Linked DNA regions of Homo sapiens. The protein of the gene in region 2 interacts with the protein of the main gene of each other region in a pairwise test. Each region holds a gene or a part of one and is shown on either strand. Other genes may lie near its edges.

Region 1 (4,539 bases), on a different chromosome or scaffold from region 2:
TTTTCCCTTCTTTCCTTGCCTCCTTTCCTTCTCCTGCTGCTCTTCTTCCTGTTTCTTCTCCTCCATCTTCTCCTTTCCTTTATTTTTCTTACCCATGAGTCCATCTCACAGAGTAAATCATAATCTTCCCATTTCCATGCCGTTTCACTGATGTCAAAAACCACCCCTTATATTCCCAAGCCTTACTAATCCTCAGTTTGCTCAGATTTCTGTCCAGGCTAGAACATTCTTCACTCAGCAGCCTATGCTGAACTGAAATGGCCTGTAGTTGCTACCATTCCACCATTTTCACTTGCACCTCTGGGTTCCCTCCTTCCTGGTGTTGTGGCCTTGTGTCTTGACAAATATCCTGAGGATCCAGTGACAAGAGCTATGGATTTTACAGCATACTTTCATCTAAAGCGGTATTTTTTTCCTCTTACCATAGTACTGACCTTGAGGCATTCAATATCTTCTCTACATTGTACTTGCACAGAAATCCTAATAACAGCTTCTTAATTGAGTTCCGGAACATAGTTAGCATTATTTGGGATAAACATTCTAATTGTGTTGTACTCTCCTTGTAACAAATAAACTATAAATTTTCCTGATTACTAATAAAAAGAAGAAAGAGGGAAAAAATTCATTTGTGGATAAATGCTCTTATGAAATGCTTTGCGGTGGCAATTGGGAATCAGGAAGGGAGGAGAGACACAACTTTCATGCCCTTTTTAAAGGTAGCATTCTAAAACTCATTGCCAATGATAGTTGAAACAAGAAAGAAAAAAGTATTGGAGGAAAAATGCTTGATCCTTCCTTCTGAGCTAGGAAGTCTTAGAAGTTACATATAAAGTTTAGAGGTTGAGTGTAGCTTTTTACCCTGGCTGGAAAAAAAATGCCTATAATTTCTCCAGTTCAAGACACTGATAGTCAGAACATGGTCTATTTGAGTATAAATTAAGTCTCAAAATAATTCTTAGTACCACTGCAATATCCCTCAAACAAGAAGGTCTGCATTGATGTATATGTTTTATACTCATGTACATATGATAAGCACAAACACACATCAATTATTCCATTAAAGTCATTATGCTGCCCCAGAATATATCCCTTGCTTCCTGTATGCCCCATCCATACATCCATTTTCTGTATGGAATGGGTCTTCAAATCAGCTGACATTTAATTGCATCACCCCTTTGCTTTTTGAGGAAGCTAAACATTATTGATTTATTTAAAAAATAACCCTGCCTCCCCAGTTTTGCTGCTAAATCATCATGCACATAAGTAATCTAAGTGGATTGCAGGAAACATTAGGACTGGCAATTGGTGTTGCCAGCTACCAAAGCCACAGCATGGTCAGAGGCTAGGGAAAGCTAATGCAGCAAAATTGCCTATTGCCTCTATGTAATCATCACCCCAAAGGAAAAGCACAGCTTCTTCATCAATCTCCAAACCACAAATAAGCTGAAAGTGAAATGACCTGCCAGAATTCCTCATTGGTGCCTTTTATTGTCCATGATATTAAATTAACTAGACAGTACATGACATTACAAGATAGAACAAGCCTCTTGAACTGTAATTCACAGTGACTTTAAGAGTTGATGACTATGGGTATATGATGGTCACTAAGGAAATATCTCCCATGAGCCCTAGCATTAACAGGAGCATCTCCAGATACAGAGACATCATTAACATCATTTATCTTCACTGAATAGACAGAGTACATGACTTTCACCTTCAGAACATCTGCTACTCATGTAAATGCAGAAAACTTGTTCAAGTATTTCAGGATGCCAAGTGACCCACATATTTTCTCTTAACAAGAGTTCATCTTGTGTTCTTAGCTTATGATTTTTATTGAATTATTGATATTTCCCTCTGGACATTTTCCAAGCAAAACAAGAGACTGTATTTCATTTGTCTCTGTTTCCAGATATCCCAAGGGGAAACTAGATCATAATAAATACTGAGTGTATGCTAGCTGAAAACATTGACGAATGGAACTTTGATTCTCAATATTAAGTAAAGTATACTATATGTAGTAGGTTAAAAAAATAAAGAAAAAAAAGAAGCTTGTTAGATTTAATTACATTTGGTGCATAGAGGAGTTGCCAAAATGCAAACATGGTTTCATTGAATTATCTTGGCCACACAAATCAACTCATTTGATTATATTTTGGAGCAGAGATGCAATAACAACCATTTAACTACTGATTTGTAGTTTCAATGTGGATCCTTCTATAATGATGTTAAACCAGAGAGTGACTGTAGTTCAAATAGGGTGTCAACCTCAGTATGTATTTAAACTATGATAACCTCCACAATTTGGAAACCTCTGACCTGGGTTATACAAGCAAGGGAACTTTAAGAACATAAGCAATGGGATCATTGTATCACTTTTATTAATAAAGAATGGTTATTATTCAGTAATATCAAAAATGTTATCTATCAATTACTCCCAACTCATTTTATTTGCTCCAGTGACAGAAAACTACTCTCCCTCTACCACACCTCCCCTTTCAGTTGTCTTATTTATTGTAATTTGAGTCAAGTGACCAGAGGATCTTCAATAAGTATTATTTATTTACACAGGCTGAGACTAAGGCCTATCTGCTTAAAACAGATTCTCACAGAAGGTAGGAGGCTCAGTACAAGATATAATCAACTATAATTGTAAGGCCTTCCTAAAGTAATCTTTTATTCAAATATTTATTAAGCATCTACCATGTACCATGCATTCTGCTATGAGCGGAGGATACAGACAAGTTTTCTGATTTCGTAAGAGGAAGAAAACAGACAACAGTCAAGTAAGAAATTAGAAGTACCACAGAATAAGTGCTGTGGTACATACCCGTTGGGATTCATTGATAACTATTCACAATCAGTGTTTTTCTTTTTTCAAGCATCAATGACAGGAAAGAATCAACATCAGCCTCAGCATCAGTTTAACATACTACTTACCACCACAATTACATTTGCTGCTGGGATTGGGAGATTTTCCACTTCAAGATCTTGACCATCCATGGCCAGCAGATTGAGAGACGGGTCATATGCGGGTCTAGGAAATGCTGAATTGACAATCTGGTGGCGTTTGCTTACTTGAGCTTCGGAAGAGGAATGGTAGCTATGTCTGTAGATTTTTTGTGGGGCTATATCCAGGCTCTTCTCAATGTCTTGTGAATGCTTATAAATGAATACCGGCTTCCCACTCTTCTTCTGATTAATTGCCAAAAAATGATCATTGTTTCCTGAAAAGCACCCTGAAAGAGGGAAGAAGCAGAAACAATATCAAAGACCCTATTCAGTAAGAGAGGTAGATATATCTGATGAAGAGGATTACCCTTTCTTGAGAGGCTTTAAGACTTGTGAAGGATTTAGGTTAGTCTCCATATTTCTTTGTCTGCTTCATGATCCTCAACAAATAGTATACACCTGGTGGTATGAAGGCCTCTCAAAGACTTTAGGTGGATAAAAGTGGGCGTACTTTGAAAAAGTTCTATTTTTCAGATATTCTGATGCCACTTTTACTAAGAAATTTCCTCCTTTATCTACACCCATAGTTTCAATACCTACTTGGGCTTCTATTCCTGGATGTCCTATCTGCTGCTGAAATTATAAATATTTTTATCATATTTAAGCTTTCCTTAAATATAAGCATTTCCTACAATTCTTATTTCATACTTATTGCTTGTATTACAATGAACAGTTTTCTTCACGCTTACAGAGTATTTAAGCTCTCTGAGGTAAGAAATCTGAGTGTACTTATTGTGGTAGCAACTTTCAGTAGTCCAAACAATATCCATCGTCTCCTTACTTGTGTAAGTAATATGGCCATCTAGATAGAGACTACATTTCTCTCAGTCTTCCCTGCAACTAAGCATTGCCATTTGATCAAGTTATAGCTATTGGAATGTGAGTAAACAGATGTTAGCAGAGATGTGATATGGCCTTCCTTTCTACATTTCCTCTTTTGTGCTGGCTGAAATGCAGAGAGTCTGGTAGGAGCATGAGGTAGAAACCATGTGTCAAAGATGGTAGAGCACTAAGACAAAATATTCTGATCCCTGATGAAAGTGAAACTACCATACCAACCTCACAGTTCCCACTCTGATTTTTAGAGAGAAAAACAATATTCTATTGTTTTACCTGCTATTATTTTAAGTATCTTTGTTAGAGCAATTGAATTTATTTAGTAACAAATACATTCATCTTTATTTCTTCTGTTAGATAAATATTCATTGCATTGAATAATGGCTTCTCCTGTTTGCTACTGGCCACAGGAGGAAACAGATAATACATATGAATCAAAAAGAATATTACTAGGTCAAATACCAGTTAGAAAAGCAAACATGAGATCTGTTTTATAACATAGTCCCTAGCAATGGTACCCCAGATTTTCACTGGAAATGCTTGTGGTAACAAGTGCTGTCCTTAGAAAATTACTTACCTCTTTTTACAAGAATTCTTCTCCAATCTCCTACTATTTTTATCTTTTACTTCCCAAATCATGCAAGCGTCTGTACTTTATTTTGTTTTTCTTGCAAATTTCAGCTATTTACA
Region 2 (5,579 bases):
GAGCCTTATAAAGGGACGCCCTGCCCTGTGCCTGACTTGCGCTGCTCTGCAGGCATCACAGAGATGCAGCAGGTGGAGGCCTTCCTGCGAGAGGGGCTGCTCATGCGTGGCCTGAACCACCCGAATGTGCTGGCTCTCATTGGTATCATGTTGCCACCTGAGGGCCTGCCCCATGTGCTGCTGCCCTATATGTGCCACGGTGACCTGCTCCAGTTCATCCGCTCACCTCAGCGGGTCAGTGTTCATCTGGCTCTGGGTTGGGGGCTGGGCAGCAGCTGGAGAAGGAGCTGCTGTGCCCTTGCCCACCAACCCACCTGTGCCCCCAGAACCCCACCGTGAAGGACCTCATCAGCTTTGGCCTGCAGGTAGCCCGCGGCATGGAGTACCTGGCAGAGCAGAAGTTTGTGCACAGGGACCTGGCTGCGCGGAACTGCATGTGAGAGTCCAGAGTAGCTGGGGTGAAGCAAAAGGACAGGGCATGAGGGTGTGCGGTGCTCAAGGCCGCCTCAGGGAAGGGCCCACTCCAGCCTTGTCCTCCCCTCTCTGCACCTTACTTTTTTTGTCTGCCCAGTGCAGACTTGGACTGGACACTGTGGCTTTGAAATTTGGCCAGGCGCGGTGGCTCACGTCTGTAATCCCAGCACTTTGGGAGGCTGAGGAAGGCGGATCATGAGGTCAGGAGATCGAGACCATCCTGGCTAACACGGTGAAACCCCGTCTCTACTAAAAATACAAAAAGATTAGCCAGGCGTGGTGGCGGGCCCCTGTAGTCCCAGCTACTCAGGAGGCTGAGGCGGGAGAATGGCGTGACCCCAGGAGGCAGAGCTTGCAGTGAGCGGAGATCGCGCCACTGCACTCCAGCCTGGGTGACAGAGCGAGACTCCGTCTCAAAAAAAAAAAAAATTCTGTAAGGGCCTAGAACAGGTGGGTTCAGGGCCTGGTAAGGGCCAGTCCTAAGTGTGATCCTCTCCCTACCCCTAAGGCTGGACGAGTCATTCACAGTCAAGGTGGCTGACTTTGGTTTGGCCCGCGACATCCTGGACAGGGAGTACTATAGTGTTCAACAGCATCGCCACGCTCGCCTACCTGTGAAGTGGATGGCGCTGGAGAGCCTGCAGACCTATAGATTTACCACCAAGTCTGATGTGGTGAGGCCCCACCTGCCCTACAGTCCACATGGCTTTGGCACCCAAGAACACTGGGCCTCACCCATTCAGCTCTGAATGATCTGAGCCCAGGGAGTCCCCAGGGTAGATGACCCCCACAGCCCATCTGCTCACCTCTTGGGCAGATGTAAGATGGAATCTGACACCTGCCAGGGCTAGAGGAGGCTGGGAACTCACTGGCTCCTCACAGATAATCCAGGGCCTGCCCAGCCCCAACTCTGGGTAGGATGAGGTAGTGGGAGGAGACAGAGGAAAGACACAGGTGATGTATTGAGGAATGAGCTCTCAGTGGAGGGTAGGGTCTTCCATTTCCAGCTGAAGGACTCTGGGAGGTAGAAGCCCTGGGGGACCCACCTGCCCCCAAATTTGGGGTGAGTTGAGTCCCCTCACCTCCCCCTTTCCACAGTGGTCATTTGGTGTGCTGCTGTGGGAACTGCTGACACGGGGTGCCCCACCATACCGCCACATTGACCCTTTTGACCTTACCCACTTCCTGGCCCAGGGTCGGCGCCTGCCCCAGCCTGAGTATTGCCCTGATTCTCTGTGAGTATGTGGAGGTGGTAGTGGGGAGGGAACTGGGCCCCAGAGACATGGAAGAGACAGGAGACAGAGCTCCTGCCTGGCTTCCTGACTGAACTTCTGGTTGACTAGGAAAGGGACTCTCGCTGGGCCTCAATTTCCTCATCTGTGAACTGGTCCCACCCTCATGCAGAGTAGGACCCTGGGAGGACCTCACAGTTGCCATGGTAACAGCATTCTGAGCTCAGAGTTGGGGTTGAGGCCCGTGGTTTGATTTTCCCAGTGCTCCTCCTACCCGACTCCCACTAACGGGGTCTGCTTTCCACCTTTTCCTCTCATTTAATCTCGAGGAAAGATTCCATAACCCCCACAGCAACCCCCTCTGGATCTCCAGGTCAGGTTTTTTCACTGTATGTGGTTTCAGATTCCCCATTCCTGGAGGGATGGCGGCAGCTGCATTGTCCTCAGTGCCTACGGGGTGGGTTCGGTGCTGAGGTTCAGCTTCATACGTAGCAGGTGTGCCTGAGCTGTGGCTAGGTCTGCTGGGTTAGAACAGAGAGAACCAGGACATAGGTAAAAGTAGTTAACGCCTCCTGTCTCAGGCTGTGCTCCAAGAAGGATGCGAGTAGCCCTTCCTCACAGTCCTACCTGCCTTGGGTTTGCTCTTACTATTCACTTCTTTAATTCACTGCCTACCCATATCCAGATTGGGCTCCTGGAAACAGACTCAGCTGGAGATTTATGTACGGGGATTTACTGAGAGGTTGGGGGCAAGGGAAGAAGGACTGGGCAGGAGAAATGTCACAGAAACTGCAGCCCATCCCACAGGGACTGCTTGAACTGGGATGACCCACCACAGTTTTCTGAAATTGAGACCAACAGGCCAGGTCTTTGTACCAGGCATTAATCAGTTACTAGTCACAGGCTGTCCCTGGTGAGGGGATGTGAGCTTGGCAGAGGCAGTTCTCTTCTGCCTAGGGCAATTCCTAGAGAGAGCCTCAGTCAAGAACCATCAGCAGGCAACACTCCTAGCCACTGGGAAAGTAAAGGGGTATCTGGGTGGCACACCATAGGGTCCACTTCAGCAGTCCAGCCCTTCTCCTCTCTGGGCCTCAATTTCCTCATCTGTAAAGTGGAGACAACAGTACCACCTTCCGAGAGTCTGAGAATTATATGAGATATTGTGTGTAGGGTAGAGTATTATTTCAGGCAGGAATGACATCCCCAAGATAATGGGGCAGGCACTAGGACCCAGCAGGTAAACCTGGGGAACCTCTGCTTCAGGACCAGGGTGCCACTGGTGCTGCCCCAAATGCTCTTGCTTCAGAATTTTTTTTTTTTTTTTTGAGACAGAGTCTCACTCTGATGCCCAGGCTGGAGTGCGGTGGCGCAATGTTGGCTCACTGCAACCTCTGCCTCCCAGGTTCAAGTGATTCTCCTACCTCAGCCTCCTGAGTAACTGGGACTACAGGCGTGTGCCACCACGCCCAGTAATTTTTTTTTTTTTTTTTTGAGATGGAGTCTCGCTCTGTTGCCCAGGCTGGAGTGCAGTGGTGCAATCTCGGCTCACTGCAAGCTCCGCCTCCCGGGTTCACGCCATTCTCCTGCCTCAGCCTCCCGAGTAGCTGGGACTACAGGCGCCTGCCACGACGCCCGGCTAATATTTTGTGTTTTTAGTAGAGACGGGGTTTCACTGTGTTAGCCAGGATGGTCTCGATCTCCTGACCTCGTGATCCACCCACCTTGGCCTCCCAAAGTGCTGGGATTACAGGCGTGAGCCACCACGCCCAGCTTTGCCCAGTTAATTTTTGTATTTTTAGTAGAGATGGGGTTTCACTATGTTGGCCAGGCTGGTCTCGAACTCCTGACCTCGTGACCTGCCCACCTCAGCCTCCCAAAGTGCTGGGATTACAGGCATGAGCCACTGCCCCCGGCCACTTCAGGATTTTTAATTCCTGCTTTGCTGGACCCAGGCTTCCTTCCTGGAAGAACTGTGATGATGACCATTGTACCTCGTGAGCTGGGCCTTGTGCCTAGCACTTCACAGGCATCAGCCTATATGCCTACTTCTCTGTGATCAGAGGAGGACCCAGAGGCACAGAGAAGTTAAGGAACTTATCCAAGATCACATAGCCCAGGCCACAGGGCACAGGAGCCCAAGCTCTTAACACCTGAGGTAGTTCGACCTCTGCCAGGGTGGGAAGGCAGGACTGGAACAGTAATCATAGGGATGAGAAGAGCTGCCCCTGATTGGGTAGTGCTAGGTACTAGGTCCTGTCATCTATCCTCATCCCTGTGTGGCCTGCCAGAGGTTTAACAGCAAGTGGGTGGCCCAGAATCCTTGGGTGGAAATTGCCTTAACCTGACATCCCTTTCCCCCAACAGGTACCAAGTGATGCAGCAATGCTGGGAGGCAGACCCAGCAGTGCGACCCACCTTCAGAGTACTAGTGGGGGAGGTGGAGCAGATAGTGTCTGCACTGCTTGGGGACCATTATGTGCAGCTGCCAGCAACCTACATGAACTTGGGCCCCAGCACCTCGCATGAGATGAATGTGCGTCCAGAACAGCCGCAGTTCTCACCCATGCCAGGGAATGTACGCCGGCCCCGGCCACTCTCAGAGCCTCCTCGGCCCACTTGACTTAGTTCTTGGGCTGGACCTGCTTAGCTGCCTTGAGCTAACCCCAAGCTGCCTCTGGGCCATGCCAGGCCAGAGGGCAGTGGCCCTCCACCTTGTTCCTGCCCTTTAACTTTCAGAGGCAATAGGTAAATGGGGCCCATTAGGTCCCTCACTCCACAGAGTGAGCCAGTGAGGGCAGTCCTGCAACATGTATTTATGGAGTGCCTGCTGTGGACCCTGTCTTCTGGGCACAGTGGACTCAGCAGTGACCACACCAACACTGACCCTTGAACCAATAAAGGAACAAATGACTATTAAAGCACAAATTGTAGCAAACAGTGTGAAAGAATGACAGGAGGCTGCTATAAATAGCTGAATAGAGAGGCAAGGGAAGCCTCCCAGGAGGTGACATTTTGCTGAGGCCTTATCAACCGGGGAAAAACCACCAGAAACAGTGTTGAGGAAAGAGGGTTTTTGGCAGAGAGTCACACATGCAAAGACCCTGAGGCTGGAAAGGAGTTGGATCAGCAAGAAGGATTTTGAGAACAGGGAGGGTGAGCAAGGCCCAGATCCAGGTCCTAGGGCTCTGGGGACTGTTAGATGGAACCAAGGAAGTAGGCTGAGTACCCAAGCATGCAGTGACCAGGATGGTTTCTTCCATGGCTCAGGCTGCCTCCTCCCCTTTCCCCAGCCCTAGCACTTCTCCAGGGCTCCCTGCTCGATCTGCAGTGCCCACCGTCACACCATCCAGGATGGAATGGGGCCTGCCATCTGGGGCATAGAGGCTTGGGTCCCAGCAACACTGCCAGCATTGATTGCGCTTGTAGCCTTAAGAGAGATAAGCCAGCAGCAAGGCCTCAACTCCACACTTTCTTTTTTTTTTTTTGAGACGGAGTCTCGCTCTGTCGCCCAGGCCGGACTGCGGACTGCAGTGGCGCAATCTCGGCTCACTGCAAGCTCCGCTTCCCGGGTTCACGCCATTCTCCTGCCTCAGCCTCCCGAGTAGCTGGGACTACAGGCGCCCGCCACCGCGCCCGGCTAATTTTTTGTATTTTTAGTAGAGACGGGGTTTCACCTTGTTAGCCAGGATGGTCTCGATCTCCTGACCTCATGATCCACCCGCCTCGGCCTCCCAAAGTGCTGGGATTACAGGCGTGAGCCACCGCACCCGGCCTAACTCCACACTTTCAAGGAGCCAACTTCTGGCCAGGTGCGGTGGCTCATGCCTGTAATCCCAGCACTTTGGGAGGCTGAGGCAGGCGGATCACTTGAGG

Evidence for each region. The genes of interacting proteins can lie anywhere in the genome.
Region 1: the proteins of MST1R (region 2) and PTPRR interact in a two-hybrid assay, tested with the Homo sapiens proteins (one study listed by BioGRID).

The regions. Positions count from the first base shown.
Region 1 is NC_000012.12:70,889,739-70,894,277, forward strand, and holds part of PTPRR (receptor-type tyrosine-protein phosphatase R isoform 1 precursor), read right to left. Parts: intron 3,240-4,539; coding exon 2,941-3,239; intron 1-2,940. UniProt on the Homo sapiens protein: Sequesters mitogen-activated protein kinases (MAPKs) such as MAPK1, MAPK3 and MAPK14 in the cytoplasm in an inactive form.
Region 2 is NC_000003.12:49,886,054-49,891,632, reverse strand, and holds the end of MST1R (macrophage-stimulating protein receptor isoform 1 preproprotein), read left to right. Parts: intron 1-52; coding exon 53-234; intron 235-326; coding exon 327-436; intron 437-982; coding exon 983-1,148; intron 1,149-1,572; coding exon 1,573-1,709; intron 1,710-1,817; exon of another isoform or gene 1,818-1,912; intron 1,913-4,070; coding exon 4,071-4,326; 3' UTR 4,327-4,631; downstream 4,632-5,579. UniProt on the Homo sapiens protein: Receptor tyrosine kinase that transduces signals from the extracellular matrix into the cytoplasm by binding to MST1 ligand. Regulates many physiological processes including cell survival, migration and differentiation.